Linked DNA regions of Homo sapiens. The protein of the gene in region 1 purifies or fractionates together with the protein of each later gene. This does not show direct contact. Each region holds a gene or a part of one and is shown on either strand. Other genes may lie near its edges.

Region 1 (4,270 bases):
ACACACAATAGAAGCCTGGCTCTGATTTCCTCTTGAGTGTATCCTGGCTAGGCTGAAGTAGAAGGGAAATTAGAGGGAGAAGCTGTCTGGCCTTCCTTGGGAATAACTATTCCTTCCTGCCCTCAGCTGCCGCTCAGCTTTGATGGAACAACGCTTATTTTGGAAGTTCGAAGGGGCTGTCGTGTGTGTGGCCCTGATCTTCGCTTGTCTTGTCATCATTCGTCAGCGACAATTGGACAGAAAGGCTCTGGAAAAGGTCCGGAAGCAAATCGAGTCCATATAGCTACATTCCACCCTTGTATCCTGGGTCTTAGAGACCCTATCTCAGACAGTGAAAGTGAAATGGACTGATTTGCACTCTTGGTTCTTTGGAGCCTTGTGGTGGAATCCCCTTTTCCCCATCTTCTTCTTTCAGATCATTAATGAGCAGAATAAAAAGAGTAAAATGGTTTCCTTCCCTTCTGTAACTTGGAGCAGGAAGTCATGGGGGCAGAGAGGGAAAGGAGGTGGTTACTTAAGGCCCCAATCTACCAAGTCTTCCCCACCACTTCTCCCTTGTTTTCCCCCTCTTCTACTACTTATTTCAAACTTCTGGGATACAATTTCAGCTAAAACGTTTATTTCTCACTCAAAACTTATTTCCCCTCAACCCTATACCCAAAGAAGAAATAAAATCACAGATACATAACAGAAGTATTTGAGGTACCCTCTCATATATGCAAACAAATGCAGACTAGGCCTCAGGCAGAGACTAAAGGACATCTCTTGGGGTGTCCTGAAGTGATTTGGACCCCTGAGGGCAGACACCTAAGTAGGAATCCCAGTGGGAAGCAAAGCCATAAGGAAGCCCAGGATTCCTTGTGATCAGGAAGTGGGCCAGGAAGGTCTGTTCCAGCTCACATCTCATCTGCATGCAGCACGGACCGGATGCGCCCACTGGGTCTTGGCTTCCCTCCCATCTTCTCAAGCAGTGTCCTTGTTGAGCCATTTGCATCCTTGGCTCCAGGTGGCTCCCTCAGTCTGGACTCTACCACTTGGGTCTCCAGATTTTCTGTTACGTCCTTGTGGGTCAGGATATTTCTGGAAGTCACTGTGAGGTGAAGGCAAGAGGGCAGTAGTAGAGTGCTCCCCTGGGTGGGAGACCCTAGACAGGACAGGACCTCCCTCTTGCTTCTTGACGACCTTGGAGAACAGAGTCCCCCTCCCTTGCTCAGCCAGGGGTTGCTCCCTGCCCTTGCCTCTCACCTCCGTGAGGCTGGTAATCCTCAGACCCAGCTTCTGGTCGACTCTGGAATGGACTGAAGCTGGGCAGGATGATGAGAGCCAGGGAAAAAAGAAGAATCTGGGAGGAAGCAAGAGGAACAGATGAAGGGAGCAGGGGGTAGAGTGAACGGAGGCCAGCTGGGGTTATCGGATGTGGGAAGTAGATCTGGCCGGGTAGTCGGGGTATAAGGATAGAAGTGTGGGGGGAGATGGGAGTAGATAGACTAATGGTACCAAAACACAAGTGCTGGTCTGGGCAGCTTTGTTGGAAGTTTGAGCAATTAGCGTCTGCAGCTGGCGGAGCTGAGCTACCAAGGAGCTGGGAAAGGAGGAATGAAGAGTTAGTATCATCTGGGTACCAGGGGCCAAGAATGGCACCCCTGTGTGCTGTACCTGCCTTCAAAACACACATACACACACAATGCTTTCACTCACATGTTGTGCCTCTCCAGCTCCTGGACTTTTTTCTGTAATTCTTGGTTCTGTGCAGAACAGGCTGCCACCCTAGAATGTAGGGAGGTAGGACAAGGCTCAGCAACCTGAGTCCCTTACCTTGCCTCCCATGGTGAGGAAGGGGCCCAGACATGGCCCACAAGAAGCCAGAAATAACCCAGGCGTACCTGCTCTCCAGCCCATCAATGTACTCCTTCTTCCGCCGCCGACTGTCCTGAGCTGACTGCTTGTTACGGATTTTCCTCCTGACCTTCTTGAGGACCCTCTCCTCTGCCTTGGAGGCCCAGGATGTGTGAGTCCTGGGTCCTTCACCTGCCCCCAACTCCCCAATGCTTCTCCTGGGATATTGGCCCCTCAGAGGTCATGGTGAGGCCCCTGGGTTGGGATACCCTTAGGGGAAGCATGTTACCTTGGTGAGGGGCAGGTGAGAGGGCAGGGAAACCCCTTCCTGCCCCAGCAGACGCTTCTCCTCATCGGTCAGGAACAGGGTTTGACAGGGCAGCTGGGGGTAGGGGCAGGAGAAGATGCAATAGGAGTGAGGAGGGGGTCATCCCATTTGCAGCACCCAGGCTACTCCCCCCACATGCCTTCTGGAGAGTGTTTCCTCACTGGGAGACAACTTTAATCTAGAGGTGAGGTGAGGGGCAGAGACTTTAATTCAGACAGGCTCTAGATCAAGCCAAAGGGACATCCTGAGGCCAAGAAGGGAGAGAGGAGGGTATTGTCATATCCTTCACCCAGACACTGAGGACCTTGGCACTCTGAGCAAGCTAGAGAAGGCTTATTCTGGTCCATGTCTCCCCATACCCAAGAGAACCTGAAAGAACTCACTACAGTGAAGTTTGCATAATTTCCTTACAGCAAGCACATGATTCACTTTCAGTCATTAACTTCCATTTAGCAGAGTGTGTTATCCAGTTGCCCGTCAACCTCAGGGAGCTCCCTGGGGCAGTGGCCCATTCTCCCTTAGGGTCTGAGCTCTGCTTCTCAGACTCAGGTTCTGTCCCCTCTCATACAAGGAGCTTCCCAAAGGCAGCCATACGTCTCACAGCAAATCACAGGAGAGGATGTACGGAGAGTGGATGGCCCTTCTCACTAGTATTTCTTTTTGAAAGATGTATGTGGCCGGGCACAGTGGCTCACACCTGTAATCCCAGCACTTTAGGAGGCCAAGGTGGGCAGATCACCTGAGGTCAGAAGTTCAAGACCAGCCTGGCCAACATGGCAAAACCCAATGTCTATTGAAAATACAAAAATTAGCAGGGCGTGGTGGTGGGTGCTTGTAATCCCAGCTACTTGGGAGGCTGAGGCAGGAGAATCGCTTGAACCCGGGAGGTGGAGGTTGCAGTGAGCCGAGATTGCACCACTGCACTCCAGCCTGGGCAACAAGAGCGAAACTCCATCTCAAAGAAAAAAAAGATGTATGCTTCATTTTGTGACTTACAGAGAATTTACTTTGGTTTTTGCCTGCTCATGGTTTTTGGCTTTTGGCAAAACCATTTCCTGTGTGGCTTTTCCTGATGTGCCTTTCTTGTTCCTGTGACTGTTTGGTGGAACTATTAGAGGAGTGTCTCTTCCAGTCCACCTAATCAAAATCACTGAAAATGAGGCCTAGAGGGTTTCATTTAAAACAAACAACAAAAAAAAAAAAAAAAAAAGAAAAAGAAAAAGAAAACAGAGTGGCCAAGGTGGCTCACGCCTGTAATTTCAGCACTTTGGGAGGTCAAGACAGGAGGATTGCTTGAGGCTAGGAGTTCGAGACCAACCTGGGCAACATAGTGAGACTGTCTCTACAATAAAGAAATAACAAAGCATTTACAAACACCATGGTGCTTCTAATGTATACCCAAACTTAGGGGCATCAGACTTTTTTTTTTTGAGACGGAGTCTTGCCCTGTCGCCCAGGCTGGAGTTCAATGGCGCAATCTCCACTTACTGCAACCTCTGCTTCCCGGGTTCAAGCGATTCTCCTGCCTCAGCCTCTCGAGTAGCTGGGATTAAAGGCACCCGCCACCATGCCCAGCTAATTTTTGCATTTTTAGTAGAGATGGGGTTTCACCATGTTGGCCAGGCTGGTCTCGAACTCCTGACCTCGTGATCCGCCCACCTTGGCCTCCCAAAGTGCTGGGATTACAGGCATGAGCACCGCGCCCGGCCGGCATCAGACTTTTAAAGGTTCCTCAGCTCAAGATTCTAAGATGTTGGCCGGGTGCGGTGGCTCATGCCTGTAATCCCAGCACTTTGGGAGGCTGAGGCGGGCGGATCACAAGGTCAAGAGATCAAGACCATCCTGGCCAACATGGTGAAACCCCATCTCTACTAAAAATACAAAAATTAGCCAGGCTTGGAGGCGCACACTTGTTGTCCCAGCTACTCAGGAGGCTGAGGAAGGAGAATCGCTTGAACCTGGAAGGCAGAGGTTGCAGTGAGCTGAGATGATGCCACTGCACTCCAGTCTGGTGACAGAGCGAGACTCTGTCTAAAAAAAAAAAAAAAAAAAAAAAAAGATTCTAAGATGCTTAGCTTGGCTTCTGGTCCCAGCTTCAACTGCAGA
Region 2 (3,812 bases), on another chromosome or scaffold:
AGAATGCAAGGCTTGGATCAAGCAAAGATTTGGGCCACATGAAAGATTTGGAGCTTTGTCTAACAGGTCACAGACATTGATGGATGCTTTTGAGTGGATGCTATAGACTGAATGTTTGTATCCCCACCCAATTTCCTCTGTTGAAATCCTCACCTCCAATGCAATAGTATTTGGAGGTGGAACCTCTGAGAGGTGATGAGGTCATGAGGGTGACACCCTTGTGAACAGGATTAGTGCCCTTATTAAAAAGACCCCAGACACCAGGTGTGGTGGCTCATGCCTATAATCGTAGCACTTTAGGATGCCGAGATGGACGGATTACCTAAACTCAGGAGTTCAAGACCAGCCTGGCCAACATGGTGTAACCCCGTCTCTACTAAAAATACAAAAATTAGCTGGGCATGGTGGTACATGCCTGTAATCCCAGCTACTCGGGAAGCTGAGGCAGGAGAAATGCTTGAGCCCAGGAGACAGAGGTTGCAGTGAGCTAAGATCACATCACTGTGTTCCAGCCTGGCCAAGAGAGTGAGACTCTGTCTCAAAACAAAACAAAACGAAACAAAACAAAACAAGTGCAATGCAGTAATGGAGATGTTGGGGGCAAGAAACTGCTGTTTTTAAGAACTATCAGTGGCTCCCAGAATCACTGTGAGGAATGAAGAGTTTAGCTGAACTTTCAGGAACAATTCCCAAAAAACTGAGCCAAGAAGGGAGCTGCTGCCTCTGGCATGATTAGGAGGATCAGAAAGCTGTTCCACAATAGCCAGCTTCCGGTGGCTGCCGGAGACTGTAGCCCACAGGGGTAGCCTGGGTCAGAGGGATAGCACCCAGGCCAGGGCCAGGGCCAGGACAGAGGGCTGTGGAGTGGCAGAAGCATTCATGGCTCAGCCAGGCAGAAGAATCTACACAGTGACTTTGAATGGAGACTGGGAAGAATACTGGACAACACCTAGGTTTCTGGCATCAAGGATAGTAGTGGTCAATCACTGAAGATAGGAAGAGTGGATTTTAGGAGTCAGAGGTATGTGTGGCCATCTAAGGAACCAGCTGGAGTCAGGACATAGTCACAGTGAACTGAAGCCAGCGTGGGAGGGAGTCCTTCAGGGAGGGAGCTCAGCAGGAAGAGGGTGGGGGAGTGAGCCTGAGGATCACTGAAACACTCAGGACAGGGGCAGGGGAAGCTTAGCCCAGCAACAGGACTGACAGAGAAGCAGCAGAGAGAGAAGAGCAAGGAGGACACAGTCTCAGGAAGTGGAGGAAGCAGAAGTCGACAGTGTTAAATACTGCTGAGGCATCAGCCAAGACAGGCACTGAGAATCCACAAAGAAGCTGACAGGGCCCTTCAGTGAGATGAAGGGAGAAGGAGGGCAGGGAACACTGCCACTAAGTTCAGGAAGACAAGAATGCCCACTGGCCTTGCTGTGTTTAAACTGGAGCTCCTGGCCATGATTATTTAAGGAAAAGAAAAAAAGAGAAAAAGAAAACAGGAATAAAGATTGGAAGGGAGGAAACAAAACATCACTATTTGTATAAACATTCACATAGGATCACAGACCGAATCACAAAGAATCAGTAAATTATTAGAAGTAATTAGAGTTCAGCAAAGTTAATAGATAAAAGATCGACTTAAAATAATCCGTATTTCTCTACACCAGCAACAATTAGAAAATACAATACAAAATAAGGTACCATTGTAATGGCAACAAAACCCATAAAGTACTTAGGAACCAACTAAAGAAAGAATATGCAAGATCTCCGTGAAGAAAAATGTTCAACTGTTCCCTAAAACTTAAAGTATAATAAATAAATAAATAAATAAAAAGAAAAATGTTCAACTGTTAAAAGAAGTAAAATGAGATCTGAATAAACAAGACTTTCTATGGTTTGGGATAGGTCAACTTAACATTATGAAGACTTCAGCTCTCCCTAAATTAAATGCAGTCTTGGCTGGGCATGGTGGCTCATGCCTGTAATCCCAGCACTTCGGGAGGCTGAGGTGGGCGGATCATGAGGTCAGGAGATCGAGACCATCCTGGCGAACATGGTGAAACCCTGTATCTACTAAAAATACAAAAAAATTAGTCGGACATGGTGGCAGGCGCCTGTAGTCCCAGCTACTTGGGAGGCTGAGGCAGAAGAATGGCGTGAACCCGGGAGGTGGAGCTTGCAGTGAGCCATCGTGCCACTGCACTCCAGGCAGGGCAACAGAGCGAGACTCCATCTCAAGAAAAAAAAAATTAATGCAGTCTCATCATTGGTTTTATTATTATTATTATTACTACTACTATTTAGAAACTCAAACTTATTCCAAATGCATATGAAAGAATAATCGTGCACAAAAAACTAACTCTGTATCAAACTGAGAAAAAAGACAAGGGGAACTTGTTTTATGAGATAACAAACATGTATGGCGCTGGGATTCAGAAAAAGATGAATCAGACAGAAGACTGGCCAGATCCAGGTGCAAAAGCAAACCCACTGTCTAATTAAGGCTGCCCCATACACCAGTGAGGAAACAACAAACCCTTGGGAGTGGCTCCATATACGGAGAAAAAAGTTAAAAATGAATTCCCACCAAATACTATATACAGAAGTGAAGCCCAGATACATTAAAGACATAAATGTGAAAGGTAAAACCATAAAGCAAATAGAAGAAAATGTGGAAAAAAATCTTTGTGACTTGTGGAAGAAAATTCTTAAAAACCCCAAGGCACAAACTTACGTGCATATTGTGTAAAACATTAAAAATTCTCAAAACTCTGTTGTTTGCAGTAGATTCTTCCATGTAACAAAGATAAAATGAGAAGAAATAATTATTCTTTAAGATTATTCACCTAGACATAAATATGGTCCATGAGTATGGGGGGAATAGAACAGGTGGCTTTCATTTTACATTTCAAGAAAACATTAAAGTACTGGGTTTGTACTATGCATTTTTTACTCCATAAATGCCACCACCTCAGTTCTTCACACACTTTTACCATAGTCCACATTAACCCCCAAAATACCTGAGTATAATTATCAAGAGACTCATCAATTATAATATGCTTATCATACCTGCAAGACATTCGAACTAAAATAACTGATTTTACTTTCCTTAACGTTAGTGCTGCCTGTAATCCCAGCACTTTGGGAGGCCAAGGTGGGTGGACTGCCTGAGCTCAGGAGTTCACGACCAGCCTGGGCAATACGGTGAAACCCCGTCTCTACTAAAATACAATAAATTAGCCGGGCATGGCGTTATGCACCTGTAGTCCCAGCTACTCGGGAGGCTGAGGCAGAAGAATTGCTTGAACCTGGGAGGCGGAGGTCGCAGTGAGCCGAGATCGCGCCACTGCACTCCAGCCTGGGCAACAGAGCGAGACTCTGTCTCAAAAATAAATAAATAAATAAATAAATAAACAAACAAACAAACAAGCAAGCAAATTTTTAAAAAATAGTGCTATATCCTAAATCCTAAGCGAATGGACCAAGAGGAATAGAATTCAATTAAAACACAGGAGTTTTGAAAGCTGTATTAAATACATCTATTACAGTTATCATAGGCACAACTGAATTAAAATAATGTATAACGCAAATCCAGTTGAAATCTCAGGTAACCCTAAAAGCTTAGGGCTACATCTCAACTTTTATTTCATTACTGACAGCTTCCATAAGAGCTAGAATGGATACTTCAGAATTCAAACAACTAAGAACAGTCAGTCAAAAAAACAAACAAACAAAAAAAAACAAAAAACCCAAAGTCAGCATTTGTTTTGAAATGAGTTGCCTAGAAATTAGACTTGAAAGTAACAGCTAGGGAAAAAAACAAA

What was found.
Region 2: the proteins of CREB3L4 (region 1) and CREM purify together in Homo sapiens (affinity purification with western blotting, with the first as the bait; one study listed by BioGRID). This does not show direct contact.

The regions. Positions count from the first base shown.
Region 1 is NC_000001.11:153,970,692-153,974,961, reverse strand, and holds the end of CREB3L4 (cyclic AMP-responsive element-binding protein 3-like protein 4), read right to left. Parts: intron 2,219-4,270; coding exon 2,126-2,218; intron 1,991-2,125; coding exon 1,884-1,990; intron 1,768-1,883; coding exon 1,699-1,767; intron 1,583-1,698; coding exon 1,498-1,582; intron 1,343-1,497; coding exon 1,246-1,342; intron 1,091-1,245; coding exon 897-1,090; 3' UTR 603-896; downstream 1-602. Other genes in the region: protein JTB precursor, read left to right, coding at 127-283. UniProt on the Homo sapiens protein: Transcriptional activator that may play a role in the unfolded protein response. Binds to the UPR element (UPRE) but not to CRE element.
Region 2 is NC_000010.11:35,189,095-35,192,906, reverse strand, and holds part of CREM (cAMP-responsive element modulator), read right to left. Parts: intron 1-3,812.